Regions from separate parts of the Homo sapiens genome. Here region 1 is linked to region 2. The links come from fine-mapping of genetic effects on gene expression. Tissue or cell type: whole blood. Region 2 holds a variant in brackets; the other region holds the start of a gene. All regions are shown on one strand. Distances are between the middles of the regions. Region 1 holds the start of PLEKHG5 (pleckstrin homology and RhoGEF domain containing G5). Region 2 overlaps NOL9 (nucleolar protein 9).

Region 1 (4,376 bases), 29 kb before region 2:
TCTCTGGCTGGAGGGATGTCCTTGCCAGGAATTCCCACCAAGGCTAAGCTCCCCTGGGAGCCTGCTAGTCCCAAGGCCCCACCCAACACCTTAGAAATCCAGGGGTGGAGACTGCATGCATGGGCAGGCCAGCCAGGGCGGGGTGGCTTTGCCAGGCGGCTCTCTACGCTCCACCCGGCCTACCCACCCTCCTTTCCCCTAGGCCCAGGCCTCACCCATCACCCCTTGGGTTCTGAGGCTCACCTGGAGTCAGAGCCTGACCTAAGGCCCTGCCCTGTGCCGGGCAGATGGCAGGGACACAGAAAACCTCTCCCCAGGCTAAGCCCACCGCACGGGCCCTGGAAGCCAGGAAGGCCCCTTCCTCCCCAGGGAGCGGTCCTGGCTAGTATGCCCAAGGCTGGGACCCAGTGCTAGAGAAAGAGGGAGGGGCTGCAGTCTGTGAACATCCCCTCCTGCCCAGCCTCTGCAGTTCCCAGCCCCAGACCCCAGCGTGTGTCTTCGGAGCACCTGGACTAGCAAGCCCTTCCCCGGTGCAACTTAGAAGCCTCCTTGGTAGGGAGCGGGGGAAAGAGGGCACCTGCCTGGGCTTCAGAAGACCTGGTCTGGAGCCTACGTTCCCCCACCCTTCCCCTACTGGGCCTCAATTTGCCCACCTGTGCCAAGAGGGCATAGAATTCAGTATCTGGGGATGGCTGCCAGGTCCTAGTGTGTGCCCGGACCCCGGCTAAAGGGCAGGAGAATGGTAAAATACCCCCGAGCTCCCTCAACTTGAGGAGTTACTAAGGAATCTGCAGGGGACCTCTTGGCCTCCATTTCCCAGACTTCCACCAAGGCAGGCCAGGGCCTCCCCGGATTCACGGGTCTCCCGCATCCCCCACCCCTAAGTGGGTGCCTGGGTCTGCTCAGACTGCCCGAGGCGCAGCCTCTGGCGCCCCCTGCCGGCCTCGAGAGGGCTTTTCCGCCTGGGACCGACTCCGGGACTGGCCAGATGGGGAGGATCGGCTGAGCCTCCCAGCCACGCCGCGCGCCCGGGCCCCTCCAGGATCCCCCTGCCCCGCCAATACCCCCCATACCGGGGCCAGGGTCCCATAGACTCCTCACGGCCCTATCTCCGAGCCGACCCACCCTAGAGACACTGTGATGGGGGCGGGAGCTTGAACCCATTCCACCCTCACGTAAATGGAGATACAGCTGGTGAGGACCCTGTACCCACCCACAGGCCTGGCACTACGTGGGAATCTCGAATCCGGGTTCTGTCCATCGGTTTAGGGGGGTCCTGGCGCCTAGTCCCACCCCCCGTCCGGAGCGCAGCTCCCACTTCCCCGCGACTCACCTAGGAACAGGACCAGGGTCTCCTCCCCGGTGTCTAAGGCTCTAAGGCTCGGGCCGAGACTGCCAAAGCCTCATGGGGCGCGCGGGGAGAGGGGGACGGGAGCCGCGGGACGGGCTCAGTCGACTCAGCGCAAACTGGGGCGCGGGACGTAGGGGAATTACGGTAGCCGCGCGGGCGCTACCACCTGGACCGGCCGGGATGTACCAACGGCGCCGCCCGGCTGGGACCGGGGAGAGGAGGGGTCCCAGGAAGGGCCCCGCGCCGGAGCCAGGGAGGTGGCTGGAGGCCGGGCGGTGGCTTGGGGTAATCCAGGATCCGGGCTCAGGGGAGGGGGTGGGGGGCGTCACTGTCCCCGAGGGGCCAGCCCTTTGCAGATCTCCAAAAAGTTCAAAGTCCCTGGTCATTAACTTGGGCTTGAAGACGGGAGCTCGCCCATCCCGGAAGGGGGCTAGGGGGGACCAGGGCCCGCGACAGGAAGCCTCCGCGCGACAGAAAAGCCCCGGGGGACCAGGCAGAGAGACCCGCAGGCCTAGCCCGCCCCGGAATCGCCCTGAGCCAGGTTCGCTTCCGCTCTATTGTAAAAAGCTGGATTCTGATCTGCGGCCTCCGCGGTGCCCCAGAAACAGCCCGCTTTTCTCTGGGCCCCCTCTTTTTTTTTTTTCTGGCCCAGGTGATATGGCCGGAAAAGGGTGCTGTTCTGCCATTTAGTGGTTCCCAGTTCCCCTCTCCCAGCAGCGGGAGTTTAGAATAACTCTGGGCTCAGGACTGGGAAGGGTGTGGATACAGGGGGCCCACTCGAGGAGGTGGAGTTCAGGTCCACCAACCTGTTCCGCACTTTCAAGCTTTTTATACAGCCTTCCCCCGACCCCTTCCCAGGCCAAAACCTCCAGACTGCCCCACACAACCCTTGGGGCTGGGCCTATACTAGGGCAGCTCCTGGCTGGGCCAGGGATCCCCACGTCTTCACCTGCTCCCCCAAAACTACTTAGCCAAAACCCAGGAGTCCCCTTGCATTGTTTCTCTGGCCCTGCCCGTTTCTTCAGCTGCAGATAGCCCCACCACCTCTCTCCGGGGACCAGTCACTTCCAGAGATGGCCCAAACCTGGCCATTCCCTGGGGCATCCTGGTCTGCCGCTGCTCACCCCCAAAGCATTGCCCAGGAGAATAGGTGATTGCCTCTCCCATTACTCACATCCTGCCCGTCCCTTCTCCATGGGGGCCTCAGGTCCACCCTTTCCTCTCCCTGGTCTTCATCTCACCACCCCTCCCTCCACACACGCATACCCTGACTCATCCCTGCCACCTCACAGGCCATTGTTAAGCTGCAAGGGAACTCTGAAGTCCTCCCATCCAACCTCCACTCCACACTGCAATCCCCTCTACGCTTCCCTTTCTGTCTCTTCTTGCATATGTCTAGTGATGGGGTGCTCACTACCTCCACTTCGGGGATAGCTCCAGCTGCTGGAAACTCTTTCCTGTAGTGTGCTGAACCCCACCTCCCTGTCAAGGCCTTTGGGAGCTGTGCAGAAAAATTCACCTCCCTTTCCTCCTGAGAGTTCTGAGGAAATGGGAGGCTCTGACAGAGAGGCCTGGTTTGAGTCCTGATCTTGCCTTGCTTGGCAAGTCATTTTACCTCGCCACTCTGCAGGGCCCTCTCTAGGAAACGGAGATGGGGTAGGCCCCACCGCAGCGGGGGAGGCGGCCAGATGAGGTTTCTGTGCCAGGCGCTAAGGCAGGGCCTGGCATACAGTACGTGCTGGATCAATGGCGGCTGCTGGAATCACTACCTCCTCCATGATAAACACCCTCACATGTGGTGCCCAATGTCCCCTGTGGCCCAGGGCCACAAGTGTCCTCCTCCATGCCCCCTTGTGACCTGGGACGCCCTGACTAGACCTCGAACAGTGCCCAGTGGAGCCCAGCAAGGAGCTGGGGAGTCCACACACTGTCCCGTGGCCACCTCACAGGAGGGCAGGGGGAACCCACAATATCATTAGTCTGCCTTGATCTCCCGGCCTTTCTCCATCTCCCCAAACTCACAGCTCCACCTGTGTGCAAGAAGCTGGGATGGAGCCTGGGGAGGTCTCAGATCCCAGGGCAGGTACGGAGGGCACACCCAAAGTCTAGAGGTGACTTTGTTACCCCCACTCCCAGGACACCTTGCACACCTACGCTGTGCTAGGCTCTATGCTAAGCATGTTATATATGGGCCTCTTTTAATCCTCGCTGCCGGGTTATTTTCCAGATGAGGAACCTGGGGTTCAGAGAAGTGTAGTGACTTCCCCAGGGTCGCACAGCTGGAAAAAAGTAGGTTTGATCCTGGAGCTCAGAGGTGTGGACTGCTCTACATATCTTCATCCTGGGGAGGGGCCATTTCTCTCCTGGGGTCTCCATGACACACAGTCCAGACCCCTCATCTGGACATGCAGGTGCTCCTAGTGCAGCCTGCCTCCCCCTCCTCCCGTCCCCTTCTCCCTGTGCCCCCTGGCCTCGCTTGCCCCTTATAGCCCCCAATGTCCCCCCCTGCTCACTCAGCTGTCCTCCATCTCAGTACCTCTTTAATCCTCAGGACTCCAGTTGCCTCCAGGAAGCCCATCCTGGTTAGCCCTCCTCCCAGTGGGAACTCCAGGGGCAGGAGGTAGGGGACAGATGGCAAATTCATCTCAGAAGCTCCAGCACCCAGGAGAGCCTCAAATAAAACATCAAGGGTGGGCCCAGAAGCCGAAGGGTCCAGCCCTGCCTGAAATTGGTCCTTTGCCAGGGCAGCCTGGGGGGAAGTTTGGCCAGCCAGGGTCACTTCCCTTCCTTCCTCCCAGCACAGCTAGAATGTCACCTCCAGGAGGGCATCCCCTTTGTTCTCTGGAGATCTCCTGGGCCTAGAACTGGGCCTGGCACCGACAGATGCTCAGAGCTGGTCTGGTAAATGAATAAATGAAGTCATCTCCTTCAAAACGCTAGTCACATCCTGGAGAGTAAGAATAGGGCTCTTGATCAGACAAGCCTCACGCAGGCCAGGCTCTGACGATCATGCTGTGTGATGTGG
Region 2 (4,365 bases):
GGTTGGAACAGGCTCAGATCTGACGACAAACAGAAGGGTCCATGGCCCAAATGCCCCGAGGCCAGGCCAGGCCAGGCTATCCCGCTGGGGCCGGGATGTTTCCCAGACCAGGCTCCAACTCGGGTAGGAGAATGTTACTGGATTTCATGAACGCTATTCCTGACCCCCGACTCCCAAAATGCGTCATGGCGGATATATATATACATATATTTTTTTGAGACAGAGTCTCGCTCTGTCGCCCAGGCTGGAGTGCAGTGGCTCCATCTTGGCTCACTGCAAGCTCCGCCTCCCAGGTTCACACCATTCTCCTGCCTCAGCCTCCCGAGTAGCTGGGACTACAGGCGCCTGCCACCACGCCCAGCTGATTTTTTGTATTTTTAGTAGAGACGGGGTTTCACCATGTTAGCCAGGATGGTCTTGATCTCCTGACCTTGTGATCCGCCCGCCTCAGCCTCCCAAAGTGCTGGGATTACAGGTGTGAGCCACTGCGCCCGGCCGTGTCATGGCGGATATTAAAAGTAAACTTGAAAATATGGATGTGCAGGGCCAGACGCGGTGGCTCACGCCTGTAATCCCAGCACTTTGGGAGGCCGAGGCAGGCAGATCACCTGAGGTTGGGAGTTCAAGACCAGCCCAACCAACATGGAGAAACCCCGTCTCTACTAAAACCACAAAATGAGCCGGGCTTGATGGCGCATGCCTGTAATCCCAGCTACTCGGGAGGCTGAGGCAGGAGAATCACTTGAACCCAGGAGGCGGAGCTTGTGGTGAGCCATATCGCACCATTGCACTCCAGCCTGGGCAACAAAAGTGAAACTCCATCCCAAAAAAAAAAAAAAAAGAAAAAGAAAAAAGAAAAGAAAATATGGATGTGCAGGAGGAATTTCCTGGCCCTTCCCGAGAGCTACAAAGACAAGGTTGGGAACGGTTCCAGACCATCCTTGCCAGGGGCGTGCAACTTGAAGGCACAAAATGGGACAGTCTGAAGGGCCTTGGGGCATCTTTCTTGCCCCACTTTCTATGTCACAGAGGAGGAAACAGGTAACCCTCCTCTAACACGAGAGCCACAGCAGCAAAGCCAACCTGCCACCAGAGCAACCCTTTGGCATATGTTTTTGTTTTTGTTTGAGACGGAGTCTTGCTCTGTTGCCCAGGCTGGACTGCAGTGGCACGATTTCTGCTCACTGCAAGCTCCGCTTCCCGGGTTCACGCCATTCTCCTGCCTTAGCCTCCCGAGAGCTGGGACTACAGGTGCGTGCCACCACGCCCAGCTAATTTTTTGTATTTTTAGTAGAGACGGGGTTTCACCGTGTTAACCAGGATGGTCTCGATCTCCTAACCTTGTGATCCGCCTGCCTCGGCCTCCCAAAGTGCTGGGATTACAGGCGTGAGCCACTGCGCCCAGCAACCCTTCGGCATATGGAGTCTAGGTCTTTCTTCTGTCAGGAGTTAGATGGCTGAGCAGCAAGTCCCCCTCCTCTGCCCTCAAATCAGAGCTGATGGCTCAAACTGCAGGGCTTGGAGGGCTTAACTCACTGATTAATGGAAGAATGAGACCAAATGGATCCAGCCTGCAAGTGGCTCTTAAACCGTCCGGACTAATTCAGTGAGTGTGAGTCCTTGGAGCCCTCCAAGACCTGCAAAGCCCCTCCTTTCACTCTGTGTCCTCAAACCTCCTTTCTAGACAAAAGAGATAGAAAACATACTCACCGGTTCCTGAACAAAGGCTGAGCCAGCTTCGAGGTGGAGACCCATGTTTTGTCAGGACTGAATTCATGCTTGACCTCTGCGGTGGTGGCACCCTGCCTGGACCTCCAGCCACATGCCAATGCCACAGGCCTCTCTAATCAGACACACAGGTCTCCGTCCTGCTTTGCCCAGTTGCCATCTCAACATGGAAGGCTTCTCCCCGACTCAGCCCCAGTCTTAATTTCTGCAGCTGGACCTGTCTGCACAGAAAACCAAGGCGCTCTCAGCCCTGCCAATTTGCTCCCCGTCCAACACAGGTCCCCTGGGCGCTGTATATTTGAAGGCACAGACTTCGCAGCCGCCGCTCACACTGCATTTCCTTGTTGGTGGTTGGTTCCTTCTTGGATTTTCCATTCCTGAGTGCCCATTTGCGCCCTGGAATGGGCTCCCACACTGCTGGCTGCCCTGGAGGTGCCGTCCCTCCTTTCCAGGAAAGCAACACCACAGAGACCCCGGCCTCTGCAATCCCAGCAGCCAGCAGCAGCCCCTCTGCTGGGCTCCTTGGCTACCAGGAAGGCCTTAGTTTGGTGGCTTTCCCCTGCCAGGCAGAGAGGGGCTGGTCACAGCGGGAGATCAAGTGAGCCTCAAAACATTAGAAAAACCCAAGCCAGTCTGCAGAGCACCGCAGCCGCCTCAGGGCCGGTTACCATAGCTACCCTTGGCTTCCCAGCCCAGCACATGTCTGCCCAGCTGAACTCTGCTGATTCGCAAGACTTTGCTTGCTCAGCTCCTGGCACTGCAGACTGGACCTGCTGCCCCCAACTCGGCGGCTACCGCTCTTCCTGGCAAAGCCTTGGGAATACTTAACTTAGCAAGGTCTTTCTGAAAAGGCCCTGAACATCACGTAGGCTTCCCCACTTACTGCATAGATGGCCCCCATATTTA[C/T]TTTAGCCACTGTTCAGGCTGGGCTTGTCAGCCAATCTCTCTCTGCTAGGCCCAACCCTATGAGGTGTGGGAAGACAAGGGCTGAGTCCTCGCTGCCGAGAGGCAGTTTTATCGGCACAGCACTAGGTGGGGGTTTGTTTCAGTTTTTTTTTTGTTTTTCTTTTAAGTAGATGGTGTCTCACTATGTTGACCAGGCTGATCTCAAACTCTTGGCCTCAAGTGATCCTCCTGCCTCAGCCTTCCAAGGTGCTGGGATTACAGGCATGAGTCATTTTAGTTTTTTAAAACTTGAACTCTTCCAGGAGCAAAGCCCTGTTTCCTTCTAATACACTCCCAAAGACAGTCCAGAAAGAATGCAACATCCCCTCTTTACTTACATATGAACCAAGACAGGAAAATTAAACTCCCACTTGAGCTTCAAGTCAGTGACAAATAAAAATTAAAAATACTGAAAAAATAAACTCCCACTGCACTCAATACTTCAATGGTTAAAAACAACAACAACAAAACAGGCCAGGCACAGTGGCTCATGCCTGTAATCCCAGCACTTTGGGAGGCCGAGGCGGGTGGAACACCTGAGGTCAGTTTAAGACCAGCCTGGCCAATATGGTGAAACCCCCTCTCTAGTAAAAATACAAAAGTGAGCTGGGTGTGGTGGTGCCTGCCTGTCGTCCCAGCTACTGGGGAAGCTGAGGCAGGAGAATTGCTTGAATCTGGGAGGTGGAAATTGCAGTGAGCCGAGATTGCACCATCGCACTCCAGCCTGGGCAAAAGAGACTCTGTCTCAAAAAGAAAAAAAAGGGCACAACAAAACAAACAAACAAACACATCACAAGCATTTGCTGGAGTCTCCACACTTCATTAACCGCCTTTCAACATTTTTTTTCCTCCCAGTGTTTTTTCACTATAGTTTCTTCTAAGCATTTAAGTGATTACCTGGAATAAAATGACCTATCTACATAAAATTACACAACTAAATTCATGTTTTCAAAAATATTTAATGATACAAAAGTTCATCTGTTAACTGAAAAGAGCTGAACAGAAACCATACATATTTTGTAAAATACACACACACACAGCAGAACCCCAGCTGAGACACCTCACAGTGTCAGTGATTACTATGTGGTGGTGGGCTGGAGGATCATTTTCTACATGTGTAAGCTGCTTATAAAATTTTAAAAGCAACAAGTGGGGGTTTATGAAAAACTTTCAGGAATGGGTTATCTATGGTGGCCGTGGAGCTTGCTTCCTCAAGGGCTCTTTGACCACAGGAAGCTTGGTAGCAACAATTTTAAGGTGAACCTGCCAGAGGCAAGATGAGTAAGTAGCTGTGGATTCATTTAGTTTCTGCATCCCTCCAGCATGACCGTGAGTAGCACAGCCGTGGTGCCAGCCTCCTGAGTTTACCATCTCATCAGAGGCTAGCTACACACTAGGAGTTACTGACCGTTTCTACATGCCGGAGACTGTGCTACATCTCTTATAGACATGACTTCACTTACTCCTCACCCAGGAACACTGAAGGAAGGACAATTACCCAATCTTCAAAACATAAAACAGGCTCAGGCTAAGCATCTTCCTCCAAGTTACACCACTGACAAGTGGTAGAGCCAGGATTTGAACTCAGAGCTCTATAATCAAAGCCTGCTGTCTTATCCATGATCTTGCCATCCAAACCCAAAAACAAATGACCTAGGCCGGGCGCGGTGGCTCACGCCTGTAATCCCAGCA

Evidence for each region. PIP is the estimated chance that this variant, and not a neighbour inherited with it, causes the effect.
Region 1: PLEKHG5 starts here. The variant in region 2 is the best candidate, but not a certain one, in a credible set for the expression of PLEKHG5 in whole blood (INTERVAL, PIP 0.88).

Annotation. Positions count from the first base shown.
Region 1 is chr1:6,489,112-6,493,487 of GRCh38, forward strand. It overlaps PLEKHG5 (pleckstrin homology and RhoGEF domain containing G5), which reads right to left and starts at 2,556. Exons shown (of 21, transcript NM_020631.6): 1 at 2,526-2,556. RefSeq lists silencers at 847-1,206, 1,617-1,706, 1,767-1,846.
Region 2 is chr1:6,517,735-6,522,099 of GRCh38, forward strand. It overlaps NOL9 (nucleolar protein 9), which reads right to left. Exons shown (of 12, transcript NM_024654.5): 12 at 3,613-4,365. It also overlaps a transcript of PLEKHG5 not described here. Among named protein-coding and RNA genes, the nearest start is that of PLEKHG5, 28 kb to the left of the region's middle. RefSeq lists silencers at 1,541-1,741, 2,195-2,489 and an enhancer at 2,555-2,849. The variant C/T (reference allele first, on the strand shown) is at 2,635.